Linked DNA regions of Homo sapiens. The protein of the gene in region 1 interacts with the protein of each later gene in a pairwise test. Each region holds a gene or a part of one and is shown on either strand. Other genes may lie near its edges.

Evidence for each region. Proteins that work in one complex are often made in the same cells at the same time.
Region 2: the proteins of TTC3 (region 1) and AKT2 interact in binary tests that used the Homo sapiens proteins (3 or more experiments, as listed by UniProt).

Annotation. Positions count from the first base shown.
Region 1 is NC_000021.9:37,195,243-37,202,280, forward strand, and holds part of TTC3 (E3 ubiquitin-protein ligase TTC3), read left to right. Parts: intron 1-432; coding exon 433-794; intron 795-2,327; coding exon 2,328-2,454; intron 2,455-2,639; coding exon 2,640-2,783; intron 2,784-4,989; coding exon 4,990-5,082; intron 5,083-6,197; coding exon 6,198-6,332; 3' UTR 6,333-7,038. UniProt on the Homo sapiens protein: E3 ubiquitin-protein ligase which catalyzes the formation of 'Lys-48'-polyubiquitin chains. Mediates the ubiquitination and subsequent degradation of phosphorylated Akt (AKT1, AKT2 and AKT3) in the nucleus.
Region 2 is NC_000019.10:40,240,332-40,247,369, reverse strand, and holds part of AKT2 (RAC-beta serine/threonine-protein kinase), read left to right. Parts: intron 1-4,682; coding exon 4,683-4,836; intron 4,837-5,300; coding exon 5,301-5,432; intron 5,433-7,038. UniProt on the Homo sapiens protein: Serine/threonine kinase closely related to AKT1 and AKT3. All 3 enzymes, AKT1, AKT2 and AKT3, are collectively known as AKT kinase.

The sequences.
Region 1 (7,038 bases):
CTGAGAGCTGCCAGGAGAGCTGGCAGGGAAGAGGAGGCGGCCCCCTGGGATGGAGACAGCTCTGGGGAGTGTGGTGGCCATGATGTTCCATCTGTCAGCTACATGGTTTAGCTCAGAAGGGGAAAAGTGTAACCAGGTAGAGGCTGAAGGAGGGCCAGTAGGCAGGCAAAATGGTCTCATCTTACAGAGAAAATAGTGACTTATAGAGATAATTATTTAGAAGTCTGAGCCCTCCTACTCTTGTTCTAATAACTAACAAGTTATTGTCAAGAATTCTTTTAAAACGAAAATATTTAATTCATGGTATTCAGGTTTCCTGTGCACGGAGCCTCTGCGCTGCGTTACTGTATTTATTCATCGGCCTTTGTCCTTGGGCGTTTCATCCTTCAAGGGAAGCCCTAAGTGATCCATGGTGTGGTGTGTTCCTCACAGGTTCATCCCGAGTTACTCCCTGAGTCTTCAGGCGACGATGGCCAAGGGCTTGTGACTTCTGCAAGCGACGTGACTGGAAACCACGCAGCACTTCACAGGGATCCTAGTGTGTTCTCTGCTGGTGATTCCCCAGGGGAGGCTCCTTCTGCGCTGTTGCCAGGGCCACCCCCTGGTCAGCCTGAAGCCACTCAGCTGACAGGGCCAAAACGGGCTGGCCAGGCAGCTCTGTCAGAACGAAGCCCTGTGGCTGATCGGAAGCAGCCTGTTCCTCCAGGACGTGCTGCGCGTTCAAGCCAGTCTCCAAAAAAGCCGTTCAATAGTATTATTGAGCACCTGTCAGTGGTATTCCCATGTTACAACAGGTATGAACAGAAAATGTCTGTGACTGTGTTTAATACTTTATCGAACTGAGGTTTCCTGATTAGATAAAATCATGGCTAGTTAGGTGTTAACATGAAAAGGGTTGCATAATTGTTTTGCTCAGAAAGACAGTTGCTACATTTCTTTCTTTTTGTAAATATAGAGATAAGTATTTTCAAATAAATTGGTGGGTTTTTTCTTTCTTTTTTTTTTTTTTTTTGAGACAGAGTCTCACTCTGTTGCCTAGGCTGGAGTGCTGTGGCACAGTCTCGGCTCCCTGCAACCTCTCCCTCCCGAGTTCAAGCGATTCTCCTGCCTCAGCCTCCTGAGAAGCTGGGATTATAGGCATGCATGACTAAGCCTGGCTAATTTTTGTATTTTTAGTACAGGTGGGGTTTCACCATGTTGGCCAGGCTGGTCTCGAACTTCTGACCTCAAGTGATTCACCCGCCTTGGCCTCCCAAAGTGCTGGGGTTACAGGCATGAGACGCCACACCCAGCCTCAAATAAATTTTTTAATGTGCATATGTAAATTGAAAACATTGAGCACTGGGTAATATTCATCAGAACCCATGACAATTTGCTAAGATTTTGATGAGACCAATAGCACTGTCTAAAACTAGTGTTATAGTATCAATAAATGAACGCAAAACAATAATTTTGCATCATTTGGGGGGACAAAATTATATATAGCAAAGAAGGCAGCAGCAACTTAAACCTTGTTATATAAGACCTCTGATTTGTTAGAGTGTGAGGTTGAAGACTGGATGGAATTCCATAGTGAATGGGGCATGTGGACATGTTAACAAGGGGTCCTTGTGAATGTGGGAAAAAGCTGCCCTTACCTGAGTGAGCAAGAGCTGTAAATAGAGTTGGGATGATGGCAGGCTCTTCAGTAGCGTTTCTGCCTCCACCTCTGGTTTCCGCTGTTCAGGTTGTTACGAGGGGGACAGAGTTGCCTCTTGTCTCAGCTGTGAAAGATGATGAGGTAGAGGCGGTGTCTCTGAAGTGCAGCTCGGATCAAAGGACTCTATGCTCAGGAATGACCTTTGGCATGTGCCCTATTATTTCAGTTTCTGAGACAGTGTTAATTACAGGCTTCAAAATTGAAATTTGTAAACAATGGGGCAGTTAAAATATGATTAGCCAGCAGGCATGGTGGCTCACGCCAGGCCGAGGCAGGTGGATCACCTGAGGTCAGGAGTTCGGGACCAGCCTGACCAACATGGTGAAACCCCATCTCTTCTTAAAAAAAAATGGCAAAACTCGCTTGAACCTGAGAGGCAGAGGTTGCAGTGAGCAGGGATCGCGCCACTGCCCTCCAGCCTGGGCAACAGAGTGAGACACTGTCTCAAAAAAAAAAAAAAAGTTATGCTTTTTAGATAGTTATTGTTGTTATCAGTGGTCTTCAGATTAATTTTATGTGCATTTGTCTTTGTTTCTTTGGGTTGGGCTGTTGGATTAATATTGGCATGTAATATTTCTTAGCAGTAGAGAACTTTCTGTTGTCATTCATCACTCACTCTCCCTTTCAGCACTGAGCTTGCTGGTTTTATTAAAAAAGTGCGAAGCAAAAACAAGAACTCACTCTCAGGATTGAGTATTGATGAAATTGTCCAAAGAGTGACAGAACACATTCTAGATGAACAGAAAAAGAAAAAGGTATTTTATCTAGATGTTCCAGTTTATCCTTATTTATTTATAAAATATGAGAATTGTTAAAAAAAAAAAAAAGCTTCAAACCAAAACCTAGAGAGCAATGTACTAAAGACAGAAGATGGTCAAGTTGTTGGATAACTGGTTGCTTCCCTCTTGTCCCCTCCCCGCCACCCCTGTTATTTTCGCAGCCAAACCCAGGAAAGGACAAGAGGACTTATGAGCCCAGCTCTGCCACCCCCGTGACCAGGTCCTCCCAGGGCTCACCCTCGGTGGTTGTTGCACCATCACCCAAAACCAAGGGGCAGAAAGCAGAAGATGTCCCTGTGAGGATTGTATGTATAACTGTATAGTTTTGTTTTTTAATGAAAAACAAGAAGCAAACAAAATTTTTAATCCATGATTTAGCCCCATTCATTTCTAGACCTAATTTATTTGATCCCAACATTAGAAACTGAATTTCAATGTACTTGAATGTGTCCAGTTAGAGCAATCAGTGAATGGCCGAGGTCATGGTGTCTGCTGTGATACGTTTGGGCCCAGCATGGAGAGAAGCCCCTGCACATGAGTGACAAGGGCTCTGACCATCGTGGGGGATCTGAGCCTTCTCTCTCTTGCCCTTGTTTTGCTGCAGATGGTCAAGTACATGAACTTTGTACATCCAGTGTGGTATTTTGAACAGTTGGGGAAATCATTTTTGAATAATTTTCTTCTGTGTAACCATGGCTTTGGAATTACACAGATGTGTCAATGTGTCGTGTGGCCACACCCACCCCAAGATAGACCGTGATTGCCTGGAGAAGAGGGTTCTGTTTTTGCTTCATGATGGATGTTTGTAGTAACGAAGATATAAAAGCTGACTTACTGAAACTTCACCAGATTGTATGAGAAAGAAAAATATGTGTTCAAACTGGGACCTAATTTGATAACCATAGTTTGTTAAAATTAAAAGTATTAATTTTCAAATTACAAAGTATTACATACAATAGAAAATACAAATAAAAAGGGCATTTAAAAACCCGCCCTGTAATCAGTATTACCACTTTGGTATATATTTTTCTAAACTCTTGAATGCATGGATATGTGAATTAGTCAAAACTGAATACGCTAGTCACACTTTGTATGTTCTCTGAGGGGCTGAATGTTTTGGTTGTTTTCCATTTTTTTTTTTATTGTGGTTGTCCTTTTTTTCTTTTAGTTAGAAATATACTGTGCCCATCTTTTCTAGGAAATAGAAAACGGTCAAGTTAAGTGTATATTTTTTTCAAACTAAACCTGGCTCCGAGCTTTGCACTGGGCATTGGAGAGGCCTTCAATGGCTCTTCCCCGGTCTGGCACTTCCTCTTCTTCCCTGACCCTCGAGTCATGGGCAGCAGTGGAGGGGCATGAACCCTCCTTCTGCAGCATCTGCCCCATCTCCTCCTGGGCCGAGTCATGCCTTGGGAGAGACAGCAAAACCCTGAACAGCAGTTCAAGGTCTTCTCAGCCTTGGGGTGATGCCTCCAGTGCCACTCCCTGAACTTGATCCCACTGCCAGGGCTGCCTGCATTCGCCCACTCCCTCAGCAGGGGTTTTTAGAGCATGAGTTTGAGCTAGGTTTTCTGCCAGCTGCTAAAGACCCAGATGGGACTCATTTTGTGCCTTCAAGGCGCTCAGAGTTAAGAGGCAGTGAGCTAGAGTAGAAGTTAATGGTGCAGTAAGGGTAAGTGCTGTGAGCTGCAGGGAGAACTGTGCCTGGAGTCCCAGGCGACACTCAGGTCTGCTCTCACATCGAAAGCACTGTCTATGCTCACCAGACTGTGAGCCGCTGAGGCCAGAGCCCTCCATTCATCTCTGCGTCCAGCACCCGACACCAACCCTGCCCATGGATGTTTGCCGGATGAGCCATCCGTTTGTTTTGTTTTGATTTGCACAAGTAATCCATGCTCATAGAAACTAGAAAATAGTAAAGAAAAAGATTAAATCTCCCTTACCCTGAGGCAACCACTGTTAACTGTTTTTCTAGGCATGTATGTATACATGCAGCCCCTTTATTAAAAAGTGAGTTATATATGATACATGTTGTCTTGTTAGCTGCTTTCATTCAGCAGGCTGTTGGGGCCAGCTTTCTATGTCAGGGATTATGGGCTTCCGTCATGATTTTCCTTTTGGCTACACAATAGCCCATTGTGTGGATGTGTTGGAATTTACTACCCTCAACTGTTAGATGATTAAATGTATGATTAATTCACACCATGCCATGTGATTATCCCATACTGTACTTTAGGTATGGTAATCTTCACCTGGGGATCTTCTGGTCACATAAAACAGTTTTTTCTCTGAGGAAATTAGAACTTTATACTTTTCTTTTTGTATTTTTATATTTTTTCTTAAGAAATGCTATTAAAAAATAAGTTGTTTCCTCAGACTGTTTAGCTGTAATTGTGAATAATTTGCCACCCTTTGTGGCAGAAGATGTTTGAAGGCCACTTGAAGGAAGAACTCGTGTCATAAAAACAACTGTAGTTATTCTTTACTATTCAGGTGTGTTTGTTTCCACAGGCACTGGGTGCAAGTTCCTGTGAAATATGCCACGAGGTGTTCAAATCAAAAAACGTGCGTGTGCTCAAATGTGGGCACAAGTATCACAAAGGGGTAAGAGCTCTTTTTGGCCATCCTTACAGCATGCATTGGGACCTTCAAATATTTTCAAAATAAGAAAGGAATTGTTTTCTAGTCATCAGTATTTATTGTGCTTTCAAACTATTTTCTTTGCAAACCTCCCGTGTCAGTGTTCAGTGCCTCCCTGTCCTCACACCAGCTCTGCAGGAAGGGCAGCTCTGGAGACCGTCCTTTCCATCCCTTGTGGGGAGAGGGGAACAGCAGCTCCAGCCACTCGTTAGTGCTGAGATTCAAAGCAGTATTAGTTCCTTGAAAGGTGATTTCTTACACACTTGACTAAATGGAGAAACAGTGAAACCATTTTTTTGACTTAGTGTAGTATATGAAGTCAGTTTAACATTTTAGAGGAGAAAAACTAAACCTAGCTGAGTCCCTTCTGCCTGACCCAGGGACAGTCCTGCTCGTACCGTTCTGGGATCTGTGTGTGAACTATCATGGTGTTCTAGGTACCGTGAGCATTTGTGTGCACCCCTGCTGCTGGGTTAGAACAGATCAGGTCTCTGCCATGGGGATTTGCTAATCCCTTGGAACGGGATAAATACAGCATGCTCACTGAAAGGAATTGAGACCACTTGCCAAGTCTCTGGTGTGGTGTGCCTCCTTGGGTACAGGGTCTTATATTTGGGCTAGCTGACTGTCCACAGCCTCTGCAGTGTGGGCAGCAGCAGCAGGAGTGTGGCGTGCAGGCTGGAGGGCTGTTCCAGAGCCAAGGGCCAAGGCCAGGCCAAGGGATGGGCTAAGAATGAGTGATTGGGTCATAGGGCCGAGAATGCCAGGCTCTGGAATTTGGCGCAGCTGAAGTGGAAGAGCCGAGCCTGGAACCGGGGATCAGGGCAAGACCACCCCCTGAGGCCAGGTTGGAGGCCCAGAGCGCTCAGGATCTGACCCTGAGGTGGGATCGTTTGCGGCTGGGGCTTTGTCCACACTCTGGCCTGAGCGGGTGTTGGTGTCCCTGAGTATTGGGCAGCTCCAGGCCCAAGAGACCAAGGGCAAGTGAGCCACGCCTGCCAAGGAGCCCAGCAGCACAGGGGAGCTAAGCTTCCTCATGGTCCTGAAGGCATCTTCTGATTTTGTTTTCTCCTTTTCAGTGCTTTAAGCAGTGGCTTAAAGGGCAGAGCGCTTGCCCGGCCTGCCAGGGTCGTGATCTCCTGACAGAAGAGTCACCTTCTGGAAGAGGCTGGCCCAGTCAGAATCAGGAGCTGCCTTCCTGCTCTTCTAGGTAGTCACACTTCACTAAAGTGTCATCCACCAGTGTGTTGAATCCGAAGAATGACAATTTTCTACCACTGGTGTAAAAAACAAACATTTGAAGACCCTTGTGCATTGTGTGTCACAAAGCTAAATACATGGAAATCGTTAATATCGCTGATATTAAGTAATTTCCCCACTCTGAGTGAATACTTTGATGATTGCCAACAGTGGCTAATAAAATGACGGCTACCACACTCATGGGTCACTGGGGCTGCGCAGGGCTCTTTGAGGTGGGTGGCTTCTTTTGGAAAGTACTATGAACGTCTCGAAGCAGTATTCTAGTGATAAGAATTCTTAACATAGCCAAGCGCCCCACGTTTGTTCCCCACGTTTGTTCCCCTTTTCTGTTTGAAAAACCTGTTCTGGTAGCTCCACAAGAGAGATGATACTGACTTTTTAAATTTTTTACAAGAGTCTGTATTCCTGATATGCCTATATTTTTCCTCAAAGATTCTGCATTTTAAGGATGGGCATAAGCAAACTATATTTTAATAATTTATAGTTAATGTTAAAATATTGGCTGATTTAGACCAAAAGATTCAAATCTCCTCTTTGTGAAATCCCATCTGCATTTGATTTTTTATTATTTTATGTTCCCCCGTTAGATTGTTTTAAGTGTTTGCTTTTCATCTTTTATAGATGTAATCTGATTTTCAAAAATCATTAACACTTTTTAAT
Region 2 (7,038 bases), on another chromosome or scaffold:
TGCTGGCTCTTGAGAATTGCAGTGCTCTTGAGAATCAAGCGAGGTGGTGTCTGGAGCTAGCCACTCAGTGCTGTTATTTTTACAGTCGTGGTTTACCCAGGGGCTCTCCTCTGGGGGCTAGAAGATACTTGAGGCCCAGCTTCATGGGGAGCTCCCCTTTGCCCCAGACGCCATGTTGCAAACCCTTGAGAAGGATCCTGGACAGAGGCCCTTGCTTTTCATCTGGAATTCTGAGTGCTGCAACCTTGCAACTTTGGTCCAGTTAGAATTGGATCGGAAGCTAGTCAGGCAGCAGGCGAGCCCCAGTTACTCCCAGATAACCTCCTGCATTGCTGTGGTTTCTGGAGCTTTCTGTAGGGTGGGCAGTGGGAGCCAGGGTAGGTGGGGTAGGCCCGCCCCTGCGAGTGTCTTCGGCACCCTCCCTTCCACCCCGCCCTGCGCGCGGTGCTCTGCGCCGACAGCCCGCCAACCTCTTAGCCCCAGGCCCAGGCCCTGGTGGAGGGGAGAGCTGGGAGGGCTGAGCTGGTCCAGGTGGCAGAGCCACTCTTGGAGCCCCAGCTGGGGTGGGTCCAGGGCCTGTGCTCCTGATTCCCATCTGGAGTAGCCTCCCAGAGCTGCTTCTGGGCTGGTGGTGTGGCAGTGCCATCCTTCATGTATTTGGGTTCTCTCCACAGAGGGACCATCTGTGTTCTCTCCACCCCTGTCTTTGAAAACAAAGATGATACCACGCTGTACATCTTAGTCTGCAATCTGCCATCTTCACGTGACAGTCTCTCAAGATCTTTATATATGAGAGACATATTTTCCTTTTTAATATCTTCACTGTATCTCTTAGGAGATCTGTGATTTTTTTTTTCCCAATCCGCCATCATTTACTCAGAGTCAGCATTAAAAAAATTTAAAATTTGTGAGAGGACAACTATGTCTGATAAAGCATGTCATGGAAGGCTGGGCACAGCAGCTCACACCTGTAATCCCAGCACTTGGGGAGACCGAGGCAGGCAGATCATGAGGTCAAGAGATCGAGACCATCCTGGCCAACATGGTGAAACCCTGTCTCTACTAAAAATACAAAAATTATGGTGGCGGGTGCCTGTAGTTCCAGCTACTCTGGAGGCTGAGGCAGGAGAATCGCTTAAACCTGGGAGCCACTGCACTCCAGCCTGGCAGCAAAGCGAGACTCTGTCTCCAAAAACAAAAAGAAACAAAAAAGAAAAAAGCCTGTCATGGAATGGGCTCCTGCCCTGTCCCCGGCCCCTGCTTTTTTTTTTTTTTTTTTTTGAAAAACAGGAATATTAGTGTAGGGTTTGGGAATTAGGCTGTAATTTGTTCCTAAGGGGGCATGGGTTAAAGCAAGTTGAGAAATACTGGCTTGAGATGTTGGGCCAGGGAGTGCAGAAGCCAACACCGCTCTGCCCGGGTGTGCACCAGGGCTCAGTGCGTGCTCTGCCCGGGTCTGCACTGGGCCCTGCTGCGCCCTGGCCCTGGGGCCACTTGGACTTTGGCTGCCTCACTCTTTCATTACCCAAGTATCTACTGAGTATCCACCATGAGTTCTGGGGGCAGAACTGTGTTCAAAGCAGGTGGAAATCTCTGCCTCCGTGGGGTGGACATAGATGGGTTATGGGGACTCCAGTCTCTGAGTGGGTGGGGAGGGCAGCGTGCCTTTTGTAATTCCAGCTACCAAGCCTGGAGCAACTGCTGTTTTTCTGGAATCTGTTTTTTCAATCTGTGCCCCAGTTCCTCCTTCATAATGGGTGGGAGTAGGGATAGTTGATGATAGCAAGTGCTTCCCATTTGTTATTAGAGGCTGTTCCTTTCCTTCGACTCCCAGTTCCCCTCCCTTGGAGGCAGGCAGGGCTCCAGGATCATGACTTCTCTTCTGGAGATGTTTGTGCCTATGTGAGCATGTGTCTGCAGAAGTTCATTATTTTCTAACTTAGGAGCACAGAACTGTATACTGTTCTTCACCTTCCTTAATTTTGAAATTTTTTATAAAGGCGTGGTCTTCTTATGTTGTCTAGGCTGGTCTGGAATTCCTGGGCTCAAGCAGTCCTCCAGCCTCTGCCTCCTAAATTGCAGGGATTACATGAGTGAGCTACCTTGCCCATCCCTGCACCTTCCTTTTTCTCTTAAGAAGTCTCAGATCATCCCAAGTCAGCATACAGACCTGCCTCAATCTTTCCCCCAGCTGCAGAATGTCTCATTGCACAGATGCCTCACAGGCATTCTACCTCACGACAGCCTGTGTATTAAACACTGCTGTGATATTTCATCAAATCGAAGGCGCTGTCATTGGGGAGGCACCCTGTTTCATATAGTGCCAAGAAAAAGGCGTGCCCAGTTAAATCAAGACAGACCCCAACTGTGAGATTAATCTGCATTCCAGCAGTGTCAAAATGTGGAAGAGGGTGCGTTGTGGGATGGATGGAAATAGAAGTAGTTTCGCGTGGTACACCAGGAAACGAGACTGGGGAGGAATACAGCCCAGCAGGGTGTCCCGGCTTGGATTTTGAAGCCCAGTCCCAGCCACACTTGTTCCCTGCCTGACCTTGGGTAGGGGCCCCAGTGTCTCAGGAACACAGGAGCAGTGACACTTGCCCTGGGGCGGGGGCCATCCTGGAAGATGCTGTGAAGGGCTGGCTGCACTCCCTGTGGCTTATTTAAATCACTGGGATTTGCGTGATTACACTCTCTGAATTTTCTCATTCTTAGTGAACATTTTATTTTTCTTGTTGGTCATATGAGTATTTTCTAGATACAAGCAAAATACACGGGGGGTTCAAAATGCGTTGGGTTGAAACACCTAATTGCAGTGTGGTCAAAAATGGGGGATGTGGACAATTTGGTGTAATTCAGCCTAATATATTTTTCATTTTGGTCTCTGGTCATTTTCACTTATTAGACAGAACAGTTTGTAAGTATCCAAAGAAAATTATTTTGTTTTTTTTTTAGCTGATTGCAGTGGTATGATCATGGCTCACTGCAGCCTCCACCTCCTGGGCTCAAGCAGTTCTCCCACCTTAGCCCCCTGAGTAGCTGAGACCACAGGCATGTGCCCCCACACCTGGCTAATTTTTTATCTTTGGTCTCTACAAAGTGGGTATCCATGTTGCCTAGGCTGGTCTCAAACTTCCGGATGCAAGCCATCGTCCCGTCTCAGTCTCCCAAAGTGCCAGGATTGCAGGTGTGAGCCACCGAGCCCAGCTCAAAGACAGTTCTTTCTCAGCAAGTTCTAAACCATGAGTGACAGAACTAGTTTATTGTTCTTTATTTTATTATTATTATTATTATTATTATTATTATTATTATTTTATTATTATTTTGGGATGGAGTCTCGCACTGTTGTCCAGGCTGGAGTGCAGTGGCGCGATCTCGGCTCACTGCAACCTCCGCCTCCCGGGTTCAAATGATCCTCTTGCCTCAGCCTCCCGAGTAGCTGGGATTACAGGCGCCCGTCACCACGCCCGGCTAATTTTTTGTATTTTTAGTAGAGACTGGGTTTTACTATGTTGGCCAGGCTGGTCTCGAACTCCTGACCTCAAGTGATCCTCCACCTTGGCCTCCCAAAGTGCTGGGATTACAGGCGTGAGCCATCGCACCTGGCCTGTTTTTATTTTTTATTTTTGTTTTTTAAAAACTTTTTAAGAGATGGGTCTTGCTTTGTTACCTAGGCTGGTCTTGAACGCTTCGGCTCAAGCACTTGGTCCACCTTGGCCTCCCAAAATGCTGGGATTACAGGTGTGAGCCACAGTGCTTAGCCTCTAGTTAACTGTTCTTAAACCAGGCTCCCTTCTGCTGGGACCTACTTCTTGTCCACCAGCTTCTCTCCTCTACATCCCTGGGCTGCCAGGACCTCTGTCCCTGCCATGCAGACTCCCTGCTCCCAGTGGACTGTCCCCTCCAGGGAGTCCTGCGGGCCAGCTCTTGCCTTGCAGTGTCTTCAGCTCCTTTGGCTAATGAATGCTGCTTCTTACTCTTGGTTTAACTTTACAAAACATTGGTAACTTATAAACTTGAGCTTGTCATTTGTTCCGAAGAATTCACAGGAGCACTCTCTCTCCCTCATTCAAGGCTCAGGGTGGTGGCTCATTTTCAAGGGGCTGTGAAAAGAGAGGGTCACTCCTTTTTGATCATTTCCCTGCTGCCTGGCTTCAAATGGCCCTCAGGCCAGGTCACTTTAGGGAAATTGGTGATCGCTCTTGGTATTCCACTTTTTTTTTTTTTTTGAGACGGAGTCTCGCACTGTCACCAGGCTGGAGTGCAGTGGTGCGATCTCTGCTCACTGCACCCTCCGCCTCCCGGGTTCAAGCAATTCTCCTGCCTCAGCCTCCTGAGTAGCTGGGATTAGGCGAATGCCACCCCTGACTAATTTTTGTATTTTTAGTAGAGACGGGGTTTCACCATGTTGGCCAGGCTGGTCTCGAACTCCTGACCTTGTGATCCATCCGCCTCAGCCTCCCAAAGTGCTGGGATTATAGGCATGAGCCACTGCGCCTGGCGTGGAATTTCACTCAGGTCCCTTCAGCTCTCTCTGGTTCTGACAGATCTTGCCCAAATTCCCATGGTTATGTGGTCATTTGCTTGCCTGTTGCTGGGGGTGGCTGGGAGGTGGCACTCAGCTGTTCGACTCTGAGGCCCAGGACTCCTGGCTGCTGGGACTCACGTGTGTCCCTGCACAGGGAGGAGTGGATGCGGGCCATCCAGATGGTCGCCAACAGCCTCAAGCAGCGGGCCCCAGGCGAGGACCCCATGGACTACAAGTGTGGCTCCCCCAGTGACTCCTCCACGACTGAGGAGATGGAAGTGGCGGTCAGCAAGGCACGGGCTAAAGTGGTAAGTGCTGGGAGCAGGGGTGGGGCTGCCAGCCTGCGGTGCCCCCACCCCCAGTGCTGGCCTGCTCTCCTTGGTTTCCATAACACAGTTCAGGGGGCTCAGCTGAGAGACAAGGCTGCCCTGCAGGGTGGGGTGATTTCAGGTGGCAGGTGCCCTAGGGTGTGCTCCATGCCCGTAGGGGAGGGAGCAACCTTGGGTGGACCCACTGCAGGTTCGTCCTGGGAGTTGGTGAAGACCTGGCTACCCCCACGTCAGAGCCCAGCCCTCCCAAGGCCCTGTGCCTGCAGAGCCTGGTCTGAAGGCCGCTTCAGAACACACAGTTGCTGCCCAGAGCCTCCCTTCCTGCTCCAGCCTAAGCCGTTTGGCAACAGTGTCTTTTGGTTTTCCTCTTTCTTTTGTTAAAATTTCCTCCCACGGGCCATGAGCCAGGCGCTGACTGCCCCCACTCTCCCTGTCCCTGGCAGACCATGAATGACTTCGACTATCTCAAACTCCTTGGCAAGGGAACCTTTGGCAAAGTCATCCTGGTGCGGGAGAAGGCCACTGGCCGCTACTACGCCATGAAGATCCTGCGGAAGGAAGTCATCATTGCCAAGGTGCGTGCCCCGGGAATTGCGCTCGCGAGCCTCTGTGGGGGCTGCGGTCTGGAGCCTGACCCTGAGGCCTGGACGCTTACCCGCGCTTTCTGCTGCTGTGGGCTTATTTCCCCCACAAATTCCCCCTAGTCAGAAAAGGGGGAGCCTGAGGCCCAGAGAGGAGCAGCAGGCCTTGCTGCTGAGTCCCCACCTCCACCCTATGTTAGGGGCTGGGGGTGCCTGTGGAGAGAGAGAGCCTCGGGGCCCCACCCAGCAGGTACTGTCAAGGGAGGCTGGGGCCTGTTGGGGAGGACGTCGCTGTTGGGGAGTCCCGGGCTTTGCTCAGGGTATCCCAGGTGGAGGCCGGGCCAGGAGTGGAATTCTACTTTTTCCCTTATTTGAATTTTTTGTAGTGGAAGATTCCAAAGACATTCAAAAATTTAAAAAGAAAATAAATATTACGGACCCCCATGTAGCCATTGTCCAGTTTAACCAGTTATCAGCGTTTAGCCAGCCTTGTTTCCTTAGCTCTGCCTGTCCCTCTTGTTCTGGAATACTTTAAGGCCTGTCCTAGACAACACGTCACTTCACTCATCCATACTTGAACATGTGTCCTGACAGATGAAGACTGTAAAGAATATAATCATGTGGTGCTGCCATCAGAGCCAACCAAATTAGCTGTTCATTCCTGATGTGACGATTGGGCCTAAGGCAGCCTTCCTCAGCCTCAGCACTGTTAACGTTTTGGGACAGATGATTCTGCGCTGTCGGGGCAGCCCTGTGCATTCTAGGGTTTCAGCAGCACCCCTGGCTTCTACCCACTGAAGCCAATACTAGCTCCCCAAGTTGTGACAATCAAAAATGACTTTTGGGTTGGGCGCCACAGCTCACGCCTGTAATTCCAGCACTTTAGAAGGCTGAGGTGGGAGGATCGCTTGAGCCCAGGAGTTCGAGACCAGCCTGGGCAACAAAGCAAGACCCTGTCTCTGTAAAAATAAAAATAAATTAGCTGGGCATAGTGGCGTGCACCTGTAGTCCCAGCTGCTCAGGAGGCTGAAGTGGGAGGATCAGTGGAGCCTCAGAGGTTGAGGCTGTAGTGACCCATGTTCACACCACTGCACTCCAGCCTGGGCGACAGAGCCAGACCCCCAGCTAAAAAAAAAAAGGGAAAAAAAAAAAAAAGACTTCAGACATTCTCAGGTGTCCCCTGGGGATAAACTTGCCCCAGAGAGAGCCTGTGTTCACGTTGCTGCAGGTGGCTCCAGATTTTTGGAACCACTCCTGGTGGTTCTGCTGTACAGTCAGGTACCAAATTAGAACCTGAATTAGAGTCACCCAAAGGGCTTGTGAGACAGTGCTGGGCCCACCCCGAGTTTCTGACTCAGTGGGCCTGGGGGTAGGTCCCAGGAATTTGCATTGCTGCCAGTTCCCAGGCGGTGCTGAGGTGCTGTGTGGGGACCACACCAAGAAGCACTGTTTTTCCTTCTTTGGGCAAGAATGCTTTCTAGGTGGGACTTCCCACAGCCTGTGGTGGCACCTCGGGGCTCTCGTGATGTCTGTTTGTCTCCCTTGCAGGGACGTCACAGGTGTCTTGTCCCTAGCAGCCTGGTCCTTACATTGTGACATT